2 separate regions of the Homo sapiens genome follow, and region 2 is linked to region 1. Evidence: fine-mapped expression QTL. A gene starts in region 1. The other region holds a variant in brackets. All regions are shown on one strand. Distances are from middle to middle. Region 1 holds the start of TLE3 (TLE family member 3, transcriptional corepressor). Region 2 overlaps LOC107984788 (a long non-coding RNA gene).

What was found. PIP is the estimated chance that this variant, and not a neighbour inherited with it, causes the effect.
Region 2: its variant is fine-mapped to the expression of TLE3 in whole blood (TOPMed, PIP above 0.99).

The regions. Positions count from the first base shown.
Region 1 is chr15:70,096,418-70,098,917 of GRCh38, forward strand. It overlaps TLE3 (TLE family member 3, transcriptional corepressor), which reads right to left and starts at 1,500. Exons shown (of 20, transcript NM_001105192.3): 1 at 358-1,500. The coding sequence starts at 381. RefSeq lists silencers at 639-758, 769-938 and an enhancer at 1,758-2,500.
Region 2 is chr15:69,759,501-69,762,523 of GRCh38, forward strand. The region is part of intron 2 of LOC107984788 (a long non-coding RNA gene); the gene reads left to right. Among named protein-coding and RNA genes, the nearest start is that of LINC00593, 74 kb to the right of the region's middle. RefSeq lists an enhancer at 1,433-1,502. The variant T/G (reference allele first, on the strand shown) is at 1,634.

The sequences.
Region 1 (2,500 bases):
GGGGCGCCCCATCTCTCCCCGTCGGCAGCGGGGCTCCCATGCCTTTCACCAAGGGCCTCCCTCTCCCCAGTAAGGCGGGGGCGGGAGACAAGCCGGGTGAGTTGGGAGACTTCAGAGCGGGGCCGGGGACCGCGTGAACAGCTCCCCCTGGAACACAAGCAGCCCCCCGCGCCACTCGCGCGGAATTAACCTCCTCTCTCAACGGCGCCCCCCGGCCGCATCCCCCTTTGTGTGAGAGCACACACACAAACACACACACCATAAAGGTAGCAACAAGCAAAATGGAGGTGCCAGATAAACTGCCTCGTTTACCCTGCCATGATAGATGCTTAAATAAACCGAGTTGCAATTACTCACCGGATGTCTGCCCTGCGGATACATGGCAGGGAGGGGTCGTGATTCCGAGAGCGTGGAAGCGCCGAGAGCCCGGGCCGGGGAGGTGCGGGGGAGGGGGGAGCCGAGCCCGAGCGGGGGGCGGCCGGGAAACCGAGAGCTCGCCCCCGGCCCCCCCAGCTCGTTCTCGCAGCGAAATCCCAGAGTCGGGCGCCCGCCCCAAGTGGAGACAAAGAGCCGCGGAGCAGGCGGCAAAGTCGTCGGCGGGCGCCGGGGCCGGGCGGCGGGCGCGGGCTTTGTGCGCCTAGGGCTCGGCGGGCAGCGGCCGGCCGCCTTCCCTGGGCTGCGTCGAGCGCGTCAATGCCTGGGACTGCGCGGACATCGTCGGCTCCCCAGCAGGTCCGGCGCGGGGTCCCGAGGCCGGGGGCCCCTCCTGGGGCGAGCTCGGGCCCCCTCCGGGTCACTCAGCGGGTCGCGCCTGTAGGGGGGCGCGCCGGGGCAGCCCCAAGCATCCGGGGCGCGCGGGTCCGATCCTAGAGGCGTCCGGGCCTGGGGCTCGCGGCGAGAAGAGGAAGGAGGCGGGCTACGAGGTGGTGGCTTGGGGCCGCAGGAGCGCCGGAGGGTGAGGGCGGGAGCCCGGCGCGGGCGCTTCGACGCCCCCCCTCGGAGAGGAGAGCCTGCTGTTCCGTCTGCTACTGCCGCTGCCGCCGCCGCCGCCGCCGCTGCAAGCCCTTCCCAGGGCCGGGGAGGAACTCCGGGCTCAGTAGGTGCAAATCAAACGCCCTGGCATCCTAAGTCCAGCGGGCACGGGAAGCCTCCGCAAAGGGTTCTCGCTGCTCCCAGCTTGAGCACCGCGTCCCCACCGAGGAGCGCTCAGCGCCACCGCCGCTGCCGCGTCGGAGCGCACAGGCAGGAGAGCGCTGGAGGGGAGACGCAGCCCGAGACCGGGGAGCTCTACGGCTTCCTTCCTTCCCCTCGGCCCGGCTCTCCTCTCCGCGCCCCGGCAAACCCCCAAAACACACACACCCAACACACACACACGCGCGCACGCACACACACACACACCAAAAAAAAAAGTGCCCCGGACCTACGGATACCACACACAGACAGGCGAAGGGGACGAGCACGAGGTCTGAACTGCCGCGAGAGCAGTTCCAAATAGGGACTGAAAAGTAACAAAATAATGTGGCAGCTTCGTCCGGCGCTGGCCAATGGGAGCGCGGGGCCCCCACGTGGGGCTGCGGGACTCGGCCTACGACTGGGTGCCGCTGGGCGCGACGTCACAATGCCCTCTTGTGTCTAAAACTATGCATGAAAAGTAGCAATCAGGCCCTACCCGCTGGTGACTTTCGCATGGGAGTGAAAAACAGCGCTCCTCAGATCAGGAATTAACCGAAAGACATATAATAAATAGATATATATTATAGTCCTGGGCTGCTCGAGTTTTTTTCCTCCTTTTTTTTCCCACGGTCTACTAGCAAATAATTATTTAGCGGGAGGAGGAAAGAGGGAAGACAGAGGAATAACAACAAAAGAAAATAAGACAAGCTGTACAATCTTCAAAACCTGTGGCTGGTAGTAATGTATCAGTTTATTCTGCAGCGGCGGCGAACGATTCCTCCCTCTAATCTCATTAGGTCTGCAAAGCAGCCCAATTAGATACTATAAAACAAACAATCACTTTGTCACTTTAATGTTTTCACTTCAAAAGATTTAGGACTGATAAAACGGTGGCTCCTAAAGTTGCCTCCGACCTTTAAAAATTTGCTCGGAACTCAGGATGTCCCCTTTTCTTCACCCCTTCTTCTGCCCGCCTCCCCCACATTAGCCCCCAGCTCTCCTTTGTTCACTCGCCCTTCTTTTCAGAAAGCCAAATAAACAGCTCCTTTGATGTGCGGCGGCTGCCTGCGAGGAGAAGTCTGAGGGACTCTGGCTAGGCGGGCAGCGCAGATGGAAGGGCCCGGCTGCCCGTGGACAACAGGCTCAGCCACGGCTGGCCCCATTCGGGGCGCCTTCCCCGTGGGCACAACTTCACCCTCGACGCAGCCTCGCCGCGCGGGCTCCTCACTGCATCCCCAGGCTGAGGGGGTTGGGGATGGGGTCGGGACCCTGCTCGGCCGAGGCCCGGGAACTCCGAGTTCCCACCTGGTTTGCTCAGCCTGCTCCC
Region 2 (3,023 bases), 340 kb before region 1:
CAGTGGAATCAGTGTCCACCTCAAAACATCCAAGGGCCAAGAGTTAGGAGACCTCCTTCATGGGCGGGGTTTTACCAATGACTCAATGCTCCATCTTGGAGTAAGTGAGATCATGTTGCTGGGCCTCACTTCACTTGACTGTAGAATGGGACGTTATGCACCTGCGGTTCCCTGTTTCCTTTTCAAGGATTCTCTTGAAGGTTGGATGAGACTATGGAATGAGAAGTGTCCTGGTGCTGTCAAGGGATATGGCAAAAAAAATGTGCAAGACCATTCTTGTCAGGTGCGGGGAGAGATGTTGCTGACTTTAATAATGTACTTCTTTCCATTTGTTATTTTTACAACAAAGGAAGAAATAAAACAGGACCTCTGAAAGATTCCTTGTCATATATAGCTTTCTCCTATTGAGTTATTTTCATCTGAGTTTATCAATCAATTGAGAAACAGTCACTGGATATCAACGGTGTACCCAGCCCTGTGCTATGTGTAAGATAAGGAGGTTCAGAGGTATGCCGCTAGGTCCCTAACCATGAGAGACCCACAGTCCAGCTTAGGAGATAACAAATATGTGTTATCCAGGTATGTTAACACATGGGAAGTGAAATAGAAGTGCAGTGATGATGCTGATGATGCTGACAGTAATGATGGAAAGGATGAAGATGATGTTAATTATTCTTCATATACACCACAATTGTACAGTTTACAAAGCATGTTTAGGACGATTATCTTATCTGATATTCAAGTCTAGAAAAACCCTGATTTTACTGATGAACAAACTGAGGGTAATAACTTCTCAGAGATCAGATAGGAAGAAAGTAGCTTAGTTGGACTCCAGCTTCTTTCTTTTGGCCCCAAGAGTGCCATTATCCTCAAGACATCATAACTTTCTTCCTTTAAATTGCAACAGAACATTGCAAAATGCACATTATCGTCAGATAGTAACATGAGTAAATTAGCACATGGGAAGTGAATGTTACAAGATCTCAAAGAGCAGGCAGGTCAGGAGACTGTTGACTGCAGTGAACAGAAGAGGCTCAGTGGAGAAAGCTGTAACTGAGTTTAGCCTTGGAAGGCTGCATGGTATTTTTGAGAGGTGGAGATGGGGAGAGGGGTGACATTCTTGGCAACTGGAAATGTATAGGTAAGAAAGGAAGTGAGAAAGTTCAGGGTGTGGCAGGAAATAGCCAGACCCCAGTCTGACCACAGTGGGTTCCATATAGTGGATCTGCTGGGGAAGAGTTGGGGATGTTCTCTTCCAAAGGGCTGGAGTGGTACTCTTTACTTTAGCGTAGGTGGGATATGGCCACCATTTTCTCTTTGATATCCTTATCCCCCTCAATCCCGAGTCCATCCATAATCAAATGAAGCAGTAATCAAATCAAATAACAGTCTGTAGTCCTAGCCCAAAGACAGAGTCTGCCACTTCCGACTTTTTTCTTTAAAAAAAAAAAAAAATGTCAGAATGCTGCTGAAACAGGAACAGCATTGAGGCAACAGCAGCTCTGACTCACAAACAGCACATCAAAGCAGCAACGATAAGAAACTGGCAGTAATTGTGCGTGTGAGCAGTGTTTTCCTGATGCTCTTTGAGGCTTGGGGGCCCCTCTGGGCAGCCTGATTGTGGAAAGAAGCA[T/G]GTGGTTTTCAAAAATTGGGTGACTCACCACACAGGCAGTGTTCAGAAACAAAAACAAAGTCCTGTCTGCTTTGGTTCTCAGAGCCCAGGGCTTTGGGTCACTGCACATTTCAGGACATCAGTGAGCTGAGATTCATCTATTCATTCATCCAACCATCCATACATTTGACCATCCATTTATGCATCCATCCATCCATCCATCCATCCATCCATCCATCCATCCATGCATCTGTCCGTCCACCCACCCATCCAGGCATGCATGCATGCAGGCATCCATCCATCCATCCATCCATCCATCCATCCATCCATCCATCCATCCGTCCGTCCATTCATCCATTCATCCTTCTATCTATGTATGCATCTTTCCATTCATCCATGCATCTATCCACCCATCCGTCCAACCATTCATCTATTTGTTCCACAGATACTATGAGCACATATTTGGTATAGGCCCTGTGCTAGGCACAGAAGATGTAGTGGTGACCAAGATAGACTCTGAACTCAGTCCCTACCTTCATGGGTCTTATAGTCTATTGACAGAGAGAAGTATTGACCAAATAATTACATTGGCAATTAAATCACTACTGTGAAAAGCGCTGTGAAGGGAAATACTGAGGTGTGTAATAGGAGAAAGTGACCTAGTCTGGGAAGATGGTCAATGAAAGCAGGAACTTACGCTAAAAGATAGATAAGATTGATAACTCTACAATCAGCCTTTCAGCACCACCTCCTCCACCATTAGGGATAATAAAGAGGTAAAATTCAACATTTTTCAATCTCTCTGTCTTCATACAAACACCATGAGGAGTTAATGACACAATCATGCTTTTTTTGAGTCTCAGAGACCTGGGTTCAAATCCCATATTCTGAACTTACTACTGCTGTGACTTTGAATAAATTACTTAACCTTTCTGATTCTCAGTGTCTTCCACCATAAAGTGAGGATAATTATAATGGCCTTCAAAAGATAGTTTAGAATATAGGTTGAAATAATTTCTGTCAACTTCCTAGCCTATAGTAGATCCTTAATAACTGTGGCCAGGTTCTTAATCTGCTGTCACTGGTACGCAATTGTATGCATATCTCATGTGAGTTTGTTCTCCAGGGATGATCAGAGCACCATGCCTATTGTCTGAAGTGGCCGGCTGAGTTCTAGAACATAGCCATCTTTAATGCGAGTCTGAATTAGATGATCTCTAAAGTTCCTTACTATCCCAGCTTCTAGAATCCCAAAAATTCTTCATGAAAAAAAGCAAAACCATAGGCCAGGAGTAAGATGCCATGGAATCTCTTTTGCCCCTCTGAGCCTCAGTTTCCCTGTATCTCCAATGGTAGAGTTGGAACTAAGAGTATTTGTGGTCTGACAGTCTGGGATTTTGTGATCTGCAGG